Linked DNA regions of Homo sapiens: region 1 is linked to region 2. Evidence: fine-mapped expression QTL. A gene starts in region 2. The other region holds a variant in brackets. All regions are shown on one strand. Distances are from middle to middle.

Evidence for each region. PIP is the estimated chance that this variant, and not a neighbour inherited with it, causes the effect.
Region 1: its variant is the best candidate, but not a certain one, in a credible set for the expression of CALML3 in minor salivary gland (GTEx, PIP 0.53).

What each region holds. Positions count from the first base shown.
Region 1 is chr10:5,955,388-5,960,387 of GRCh38, forward strand. It overlaps IL15RA (interleukin 15 receptor subunit alpha), which reads right to left. Exons shown (of 7, transcript NM_002189.4): 4 at 4,980-5,000; 5 at 4,367-4,399; 6 at 992-1,067. Among named protein-coding and RNA genes, the nearest start is that of IL15RA, 20 kb to the right of the region's middle. The variant C/G (reference allele first, on the strand shown) is at 2,268.
Region 2 is chr10:5,521,775-5,527,290 of GRCh38, forward strand. It overlaps CALML3 (calmodulin like 3), which reads left to right and starts at 3,187. Exons shown (of 1, transcript NM_005185.4): 1 at 3,187-4,997. The coding sequence starts at 3,312. The coding sequence ends at 3,761. It overlaps CALML3-AS1 (CALML3 antisense RNA 1), which reads right to left and starts at 4,472. Exons shown (of 3, transcript NR_120497.1): 1 at 4,359-4,472; 2 at 142-355. RefSeq lists enhancers at 3,492-4,191, 4,192-4,892.

The DNA of each region.
Region 1 (5,000 bases), 430 kb after region 2:
CGTGCCCAGCCAGGGTCACATAATTTTTATATTGATATCACATTTAGAAAAGAATGTTTTATAACTATTAATAGTAACTAAAAGTTTAGTTTGGACAAATCTGATATCCGTATCAGTATGGAATGCTGGAATACTGGTTACTAATTGATAGAAGTACAAAATGAAGGCTAGAATGCCATTTGAGGCTTTAATCAAAGAATAATAATACTGCCTAAAGATTAAAAAAATGAGAAAAATTAAAAAAGTTAGCAAGTGGCAGAAATATTTTTGCCAGAAATGCTGAGATGCAGAATTTCAATGATTAGAAATACAAAATTAAGGCTAACATGAATCAGTATATTTATAAGAAGGCATACCCCTATTCAATGAGGACTTTCAAGAATATATTCATGAGGGTATCACAAGAAGAATGGGTAGGACTGCACGCGTTGGCCACCTGGTGCACTTTCTCTGGCCGCCCCATTTCTACCATGAGCAGGGGTAGGGGGCACTTGGGCTTGGGCCTAGCTCACTGCTCCTCGGCTCTGGCACTCATTGGCTCCTAGAGAAGGGGTGTGTGAGAGCCGATGGCCAGGAAAGGCGTCCTTCTTGGGAGGGGGCATTCTGGAATCACTATGGTGGGGCTCTTTTCTTTTTCTTTTTTTTGAGACAGAGTCTTGCTCTGTTGCCCAGGTAGGAGTGCAGTGGCGCAATCTTGGCTCACTGCAACCTCCGCCTCCCGGGTTCAAGCGATTCTCCTGCCTCAGCCTCCCGAATAGCTGGGATTACAGGTGTGCACCACCAAGCTTAGCTAATTTTCATATTTTTAGTAGAGACGAGGTTCCACCACGTTGGCCAGGCTGGTCTCAAACTCCTGACCTCAAGTGATCTGCCCGCCTTGGCCTCCCAAAGTGCTGGAATTCCAGGCGTGAGCTACCGCGCCCGGCCAGGTGCAGCTCTTTTCTCATGGGGAAGTCTAACTCTTGCAGAGGGAGTATCCAGTGCAACTCACCTTGACTTGAGGTAGCATGCCAGGAGAGACACAGCGCTCAGCCCACACAGCAGGACAGTGGACGTGGAGATAGCCACTGAAAGGGAGGAGACCACGCTGAGATACCCAGAAGCACATTCATTGCTACGAACCACAAATTCTTTACCATGGATGTTCTTACAGAGGGATCCAAGTGCCTCCCAACCAGCCTCCTGCTAAGGACATTTCTTAAGGTCCATGCAATTCCCCCGATTCTATGTCTAGGCAAAAACACATTCTCTTTCCTGCTGAGGGTGCCAGCTCCCAGTCGTCCCACACCTCTGCTCCTCATCCTTGTCCTTCTCAGGCAGAGTGCCTGGGGTGACGGGGCAGGGACGGAGCAAGTCAGGAGGGAGCAGTAAGAGCCTCAAGGGCAAAGCCAAGAGTGCGATGAGGAGAGAGCATTCCTGCTGCTAAAGCCAGGGTTGAAAAAGCAGACAGGGACACACCCCTCCTCTGCTGTCCCCAGTACAACGCCCACTTTGCTTCAACTTCACAGATTTAGAAACAATAGCACACAGTGCCATTTTCCTTCCAATTTCATTTTTTTTTCACTTGCAATTTTTTTTTTTTTTTTTTTTGAGACAGGGTCTCCCTCTGTCACCTAGACTGGAGTGCAGAGGCACTATCTCGGCTCATTGCAACCTCTGCCTCCTGAACTCAAGTGATTCTCCTGCCTCAGCCTTCTGAGTAGCTGGGATTACAGGCACACACCACCACGCCTGGCTAATTTTTTGTATTTTCAGTAGAGACGGGGTTTCACCATGTTGGCCAGGCTAGTCTCAAACTCCTGACCTCAAGTGATCCACCTGCCTCAGCCTCCCAAAGTGCTGGGTTTACAGGCATGAGCCACTGCGTCCAGTCTACCTACAACTTTTTCTTTCTTTCTTTCTTTTTGAGATGAAGTGTCATTTTGTTGCCCAAACTGGAGTGCAGTGGCGTGATCTCAGCTCACTACAACCTCCAGCTCCAGTGTTCAAGCAATTCTCCTGCCTCAGCCTCCCGAGTAGCTGGGACTACAGGCAGGTGCCACCATGCCCGGCTAATTTTTGTATTTTTAGTAGAGACAGGGTTTCACTATGTTAGGCAGGCTGGTCTTGAACTCCTGACCTCGTGATCCGCCTGCCTTAGCCTCCCGAAGTGCTGGGATTACAGGCGTGAACCACCACGCCTGGCCAACTTTTTCTTTTCTTCTTCTTTTTTTTTTTTTTTCTGCGACGGAATCTCACTGTGTTGCCCAGGCTGGAGTGCAGCGGCT[C/G]GAGTTTGCTCACTGCAACCTCCCCCTCCCAGGTTCAAACGATTCTCCTACCTCAGCCTCCTGAGTAGCTGGGATTTCAGGCGCCTGCCACCACACCTGGCTAATTTTTGTATTTTTGGTAGAGATGGTGTTTTGCTATGTTGGCCAGGCTGGTCTCGAACTCCTGGCCTCAAGTGATCTGCCCACCTTGGCCTCCCAAAGTGTTGGAATTACAGGCATGAGCCACAGCGCCCGGCTGATTTTTTAATCTAATAAAAGTCATGAACTAGCAAAAGCAGATTATAGATTATAGCCCATCATCAAATAGTTGTTGGAAAATGTATATAGAAAAAATGACCCCTGAACTTTATATGTAGGATTTTATCCTACAGATGTTCTTGCACCTATGGATTTTCAATTAATGGCTGTTTGTAAGATAACAACAGAATGTAGCAATCACATGTCCAGATAGGGGGTTGGCTAAATTAATGGTAGGAATTCCATACAGTGGAATATTCTGTAGCTGTTAAAAACGATGAGATGGTTTTTGTGTCCTGATATGGGAGGATCTACAAGGTATACCAGCAAGTGGAAACAAACATGGTACAGAAAAGGAGAAAAGAAGCAACTGTCCAGCATTCCTTATCCTCTATATGTTTATTTATACAGTCTCTCTGGAAGGATGCCTGGAAATCTGGTAGCAAGTGTTGCTTCCTTCCTGCAAGGGGATTTTTGAGTTAGAAATGGGATTTGCTTTTCGTCTTTTTTTTGAGACAGGGTCCTGTCCTGTTGCCCAGGCCAGAGTGCAGTGGTGTGATCACAGCTCACTGCAACCTCTGCCTCCTGGGTTCCAGCAATTCTCCCACCTCAGCATCCCGAGTAGGTGGGACTACAGGCATGTGCCACCATGTCTGGCTAATTTTTTGTATTTTTAGTAAAGATGGGGTTTTGTCATGTTGTCCAGGCTGGTCTGGGACTCCTGGCCTCCAGTGATCAGCCCCCCTCGGCCTCCCAAACTGCTGGGATTATAGGTGTGAGCTACCTCGCCCAGCCTGATTGTTTTTTAAACGATTCTAATCAATTAACTGCTAAAATGTCCAAAGTCACTTGATGTTTTCCCAGATGACGTTTGATGCAGGTAAAAATGACACCACAAAAATATGAGTCATTCTCTAGCAGAAAAATTTATGAACAGAAGATTAAAATAATTTTTGTCCATATCAAATTACAGTTGGGTTTTTTGTTACTTTGGAAGCTTGTCAGCCTGGAGCATGACTTGCATTCTTCTCATTACCTGCGTTCTTCCTCCCTGCCTGCTTCCCTTCTTCCTCCTGTTCTCCCCTCCTCTCTCAGCTCTCCTCCCCTCCCTTCAGCTTTTTCTTTTAGTCTTGTAAACGCTTTCCCCTTTTCCTCCTTATCATCACTTGCACGTTCTCTTTTCTATTCTCCTAGCCTTAGCATTGCGTGTGACTTCTGTAAAGAGGAGCAGATTTTTGGTTTTATTTTGTTTTGTTAACTTTTTTTCTTTTTCTTTTTCTTTTTTTTTTTTTTTAATAGAGATGGGGTCTTGCTATGTTGACCAGGCTGGCCTCAAATTCTGGCCTCAAGCAATCCTCCCATTTCGGCCTCCCAAACTGCTGGGATTACAGGTGTGAGCCACCATGCCTGGCCAAGAGTAGCATTTTATACCGAAAATGTGGACAGCTTCTCTGTTAAGTGCACGGTGCCACGCCCTGGAGAGGAATTGGCAGCTTCTGGCAGAGATGCTGTAACGTCAGTGCTGGCATCAGCACCTGTAGTTTTGGATGCTCCATGCAAAAGAGGTGCACCCTGCTGTGAAGAGCTGACCTTGAGCCCTTATTTGGGGTGCCAGCTCTCTGGGTTCAACCCCAGTAGCCTGACAGCTAGAAGCTACCAATATTTAGAAAAATGGGCACATCAAACAGAGAATTCCATAAATCAGCTATTACTTAACTTATTATCTGATGGAGGCCTTCTGAGTGTGGAAGGGGCTGCTGTCAGGGCTGTGCTGGGGCAGCGGGCCTGGGCCAGGACCACCCAGCACCCTGGGACTGCGGTCACCCTGATCATAAACATACCGGACAAAGGGACACACTTACCAGTGGTGTCGCTGTGGCCCTGTGGATACACACCTGCGGAAAAGAGAGGACAGCATCACGGCTCGAGTCCTAGAGGTCCTAGTTCCTCATGAAGCAGGAGAAAATCTGCATGGCTTGGCTCCCATCTTAGCACCCTGGGAGACTCGTGGCTGGCGTAACCAGACTCATTTTAGCAAAGAACAAGCAGGGTAGCTCACTGAGGTGCTGGCCACACTTAAGAATCAGATAAGCCTTACAGAAGGTCCCCATTACCCTCAGCTCCTCCATTCCACAGATCCTGGCCCCGGACTGTAGGCAGCTTCACCACCTCCTACTGCAGGAGGGCACAGATGCCACTCCCAGCTGCACAGGCTCTGCCATGCGGGTGATAAGGCTGGCCCTGTCACATCTTGGGGGGGTGTGGGCTTGCTTTTGCAGCTGCCCCAGCCACAGAGAAAGCCACGGAGAAAGAGGTCAGGCCAGGACGCCGTGGCTGGTGGCCGGGGCCAGCAGGCTGCCCAGTGAATCCTGACTTTGGATTGATGGTATAAAGCTGCCTTGTGCCGGATCTCAGCCCCGATCTCAGAAGCAGCAATGGGGAACTGACCTCTCCTGGGGCAAAGCGAGTGCTAACCTGGCGGCTGGTGGGAGGCGG
Region 2 (5,516 bases):
GCCTCCCAAAGTGGTAGGATTATGGGTGTGAGCCACTGCACCTGGCACTGAGTCCTCTTTCAGTGTGCCTTTTTGAGAAGGACATTTAGGTAAAAGCTAATGTTTGAGCCACAGAGCCATGACCCAGAAACCAGCAGTTACCTGTTGGCTTCTCATCCTGGTCGTTGGTCAAGTGGGCAGGAGGTATGACCGTATTCCTGTCCTTGTCCATCAGGGCACTGTCTCAGGCCAGGTTTCCCCCTGATGCCATCCGGGGCTCTCCAGAAGACTGTGTCAGCCACATGTCCGAATCCCTTGGTGCTCCTGTCTCCTGTGACTGTCCCTGTATTCCTTCATGAAGAAGTCTCTCCAGCCCCTAGGCAGGGAAAGTAGAAGAAAAATGCTTCATAGCATCTTTTCCACTAGATGGTCACTCTGGCAGTCAAATAGGGGGTGTGGTTATTGGCTATTAATTATTCTGCTTTTCTATACATAATAATAGCTATGCTCACCATAGTCTCATATCTCTGAGAGATATAAAGCTGACAATATTACCAGGCCCTCCACATTACCTAACCTCAGAGAAAGAGAAAGAATATTGGGAGTTCAGTAAGATATGGAATATTTTTTATCAGGGATGGTTTTTGAATCTTCAGTCATTTCCCCTAATAATAGAAATGATATATGGCAAATATAAAACATTTTTAAATGAGCAAAGATACTACATTTATAAGAAAATTAAAAGCACTTATAATCCTATTATCCAAAGTATCCACTATTAAGAGTTTGGTACATGATTATCTAGGCGTTTCTTCTGTGAATGTATATAAATAAACATATATAAATGTTTAATACATGAAATCATATCACATATACAGTTTTCTATCTGCTTTTTAAAAATTTTCCATGGAAACCTTTCCATTGTTATATCCTCATCCTCATTTTAAAGGCTGTGTATTATTTCATGGTGTGGAGGAAATTTCAGGTATTTGTTACTAACCTGCTATTTTTGGGTATTCGGGTGATCTAGAGCGGAGATATTTAAATATTTTTAAAGTGCGTTTGGGATATGAATTCTAACACTCAGGCATCAGGCACCAGTGTACAATCAAGAGCCCTTCTCAGAAGGTGACAGAAGGTCCCCATGTCCCAGAATTAGCCCCCAAAAAACCCCAAAATAAAAAAGGGACCTTGATCCCCAGCTGAACTTTTCATGGGGTGACCTTGAGCAAGCTGTGTGTGCAGCCTTTGCTGGGTCTCCCCACCACAAAAGAGATCTCCAGAATATTCGAGGAAGGGCGGGGCTCCCAGGAGCAAAGCACACACTCTTTCTTGCGCAGCCCCCTGTGGACAGAGCTGTAACCTGGGCCCAGGGCATGCTCCCAGCCTGCAAATGGAGATGCTGCCTCATTTTTCTCTCTAAATCTAAACTTTATTATCAGCCCCTCTCCTACCCCAGGGAGTCCTGGCCAGCCCATCTCCCCACTCCCCTAGAGCTGTTGGGGTGTGAGGTCTCAGGCAAGGCCGAATATTCTGGGGTGAGAAAGGAGGGGAGGGTGGGATCTGGTCACCAAAGTGTCACCCACACACGTGGCTTCCAAGATGCCCATCACCTCGTTCCCTCCACGCCACCCCTGGGCCCCAGGGCTCTTTGCCAAGGCTGCCTGTGGCCACCACATCCCTGAGCCCTGCTGCTCTGGGGTCCACAAACTTCTCTTCTAAGGAAAAGATTCCATGGGGATGGAGGGATTCTTCAACCTTCCTGCTTCCTCCTGCCCAAACCCTCAGGACACAGGCTTTGTGGGAGCCCTCAGGTAGGAAGGAAGGTGTCTTGCAGGTGGCTTCAATTTTCCCCCTACCACAGACCCCCTCCAGACCAGAAGGACACACTTGCCTCTACTTGAATAGAGAAGGGAAGGAAAATCAGAGAGAAAAAAAATGAATATCCGAGCCCTTCTCCTGCCATAGTCTCTCCTCGGCAAGTCCAGGTCCTCAAAAGGACACTTTCTTTCCCTTTCCGGTCTCTACCCCACCCCCACACACCCAGCAAAAAATAGAGTGGGCTCCATGTTTCTCCCCCAGTGTGGATTTCTTGGATTCCCACAGGTGAAGCGCCTGCTCCTGCCTCTCTGGGGGTCATGTCTCCAGGCCCCCTGGGAGTGGGAGCCGAGTCTGTGCTGTGAACACCCCACTATCCCCCTAAGCGGGTCTCCTCTGGGAGAGGCCGCTCCACAGCCCCAGCTCCATGCTGCCCGGAGCTCCTGGGGCAATGTGGACCAGAGAATGATAGTGGGACTTCCTGGCTGAGCCCTTCAAGGTCTCCTTTGTCTCTCCTCCTTGTCCCCTCCCTCACAGGCCTGCAGCCCCACTGATCATCTTCCAGCCCTTGGCCCTGCCATGGCCACTCCGGCCTAGACAGCTGCTTCTCAGCAGGAGGTCTGTCCTTGACCAGGCTGAAAGGTGACCTCGGGGTCCTGTCCATCACCACCTTGTATGTCCATCAGCATTTATCAATAATCCCTAGTCACCTTGTTTGCATTCCTCGATCAGTTGACCTGCAAACTAGCTGTCTTGCTAGTTAACCTCACGAGGACTGGGGGTGGCTTGCCGGTCCCACTGTGTTCCCAGCTTCCAGAGTGACACTGCACCTAGTAGGCACTCAAATATCTGTGAAAGGGTGGATGAGTGAATGGGTTGGAGGAAACCCCTCCCTATTCATGTCCATTCTGAAGATAAGAAAACTCGCTGCTTCTACCTGAAGGGAAAACCTTCCTCCTCCAAAAACCCTCCTGTTCTATATGAGGCTTTAGAAACCAAAGGCAAGGACGTTTCTTTCATCTGCCTTTCATCCTGCAAAAAGCCCTCCACTCAAGGGAAGAAAGGGCACTGGAGTTTATTGAGTGGGAGACAGGCGGCAGGTGGGAGACGGGGAGGGAGGAGAGAAAGGGAAATTCAGGAGGAAGGAGTCCAGCGTGGATTGCTCCAAAGCTCACCCACCACGCCCTGACTGCAGGTGTGATTCGGGGCCCCCGTGGCTCTGCTGGGTCCAGGTGCAAGCAGGCACAGAGGTGCTGGCGTCAGCTCGATTCGCAGGCCCTGGACTCCTGTCTAAACAGGACAGGCCCGGGCAACCGCAGGGCAGGGGCGTCTGCCAATGATGGGGGAGGACTCTGCTGCTTCTTAAGCTCCAGCGTCTCAAGCCAGGGCGAGACAGCCCGCCGGCCGCCCGGATCTCCACCTGCCACCCCAGAGCTGGGACAGCAGCCGGGCTGCGGCACTGGGAGGGAGACCCCACAGTGGCCTCTTCTGCCACCCACGCCCCCACCCCTGGCATGGCCGACCAGCTGACTGAGGAGCAGGTCACAGAATTCAAGGAGGCCTTCTCCCTGTTTGACAAGGATGGGGACGGCTGCATCACCACCCGCGAGCTGGGCACGGTCATGCGGTCCCTGGGCCAGAACCCCACGGAGGCCGAGCTGCGGGACATGATGAGTGAGATCGACCGGGACGGCAACGGCACCGTGGACTTCCCCGAGTTCCTGGGCATGATGGCCAGGAAGATGAAGGACACGGACAACGAGGAGGAGATCCGCGAGGCCTTCCGCGTGTTCGACAAGGACGGCAACGGCTTCGTCAGCGCCGCCGAGCTGCGACACGTCATGACCCGGCTGGGGGAGAAGCTGAGTGACGAGGAGGTGGACGAGATGATCCGGGCCGCGGACACGGACGGAGACGGACAGGTGAACTACGAGGAGTTTGTCCGTGTGCTGGTGTCCAAGTGAGGCCGGCGCCCACCATGCTCCTGGGCGCCCACGCGGCCCACAGGGCAAGAACCCGGGGCCTCCCGCCTCCTCCCCCATCCCCCTGCCTCCCCTGGGCACTGTGGCTTCCTCCTGCGCCTGGTTGATTCAGCCCACCTCTCTGCATCCCGCTTCCCGCGTCTCTTCTCTGCACTCCTGCCGACCTTCCCACCTGCTCGTCTGAATGACACGGAACGCTCCCACTGCAGGCAAACCGTGACGCCCTCCCCACTCGGGAGAAGCAGAGCTGACCTTAGGACCGAGCACCAGGGCAGGTTGCGCTGACTCTGCGGCCCTCCAGGACGGACACCGGGTGACCCCTTAGGGCACCCAGGCAAGATCCCTAAGAGGCACCCAATGCCCAGGCCAGGGGGGCTGCAGCCCTCAGCCCCCGCCAGGATTCCCGCAGGCTCCTGGACTGGAAGCTCCCTCCGCGGTCGGATTCTGGAGGGTGGGAGGCATCTTGGCCTGCAGTAAGCGGTGCTGACGGGGACTCTGGCCACAGAGGTCAGGCCTCCTGAAAACAGCACTGCCTTCCGCGCTGCCCCAGCTTGCCCCATTCCTTGTCCGCCAACCCACCGTGATTCATCTTCTGAAGCTGGGAGTGAAACTGGGTCAGCTGTAACCTGTTCCTATTCATCTGGAAGGAGGGAGGCTTGGATGAGCAGGGGATGAGAGCTGCAGGGAAATAAATGAGATATTCGTCCTTATTTCATTTCCTTTTTTTTTTTGGTTTCCATGGAAATGATCCTTGTTAAATTCAGGGTTGAAACGAGGCAGGAATCTCCATTTTTGTGCTTTTTGAAAATGCAATGAATTCCTATACGGGGGAGCGGGAAAGGTGCCTCAGAGAGAGACAAGTCTGGATGAGGGAAATATTGAATATTCTCAATCAAATGGATACGCTGGCAGCAAAGAGTGGTTAAAAGTCCATCAGGACTTGAAAGACCTGAGTCCATTACGTTGAGAAGGGACCTGCTGATTGCTTTGATTCCCCCTGGCAAGTGCTCCCTGGTTGTGAAGTGCCAGGCACTAGAGATGGTGAGGGGTTGGGGGGCAGTTGGGCACACACAGTGTAAGAGCAATTCAGAGCCGTTAGTCCTGCACTAGCCCTGCAAGCTGCTGGCAACACCTAGAGAAGGTCGAAGGGGCCCTGCCAGAGATCCCTTCAATTCTAAAGGGAGGTATGTTTTGCGGGATGGGCACTAGACGGAGCTCATCAGAAAAGGCCATGGTGGATGTATCCTCTCTCCCTGACACCCCACCCCCGCCCACCAACACCCAGTGTTTCCTCCTTTGTAAAACAAAGAGCTGGGCCCCAGCCCCGGCCTTGCCATCATCACTGCACCACTGGGACCTCCAGGATGACAGGACCCTCATGCCACCTGCTTGGGCTCAGGGCACCATCAAGCACTTGGCCTGCATAGACAATTGGCACCTCCCTATGGGGCAGCCACTATTATTACCTTCCTCATCTTACAAACGAGGAAGTGGAGACACAGAGGGCTTTAGAAAGCAGCCCTGGGTCCCACCAGTGGGTAAGAGGCAGACCTGGGATTTCAGTCAGGTCTGTGCCCTGACCACTCAGCTACAGGTCTGACACCAACCTGTGCCTCCATCATGGTAACTACGGTAGCGCCTCTCTCCAGCACTTGTGAGGAGCCAGAACAACATTCTTAACACACCTGGCATGTAGTAGGTGCTTAATAATGGCAGCTACTGTTACCATCACCTTCA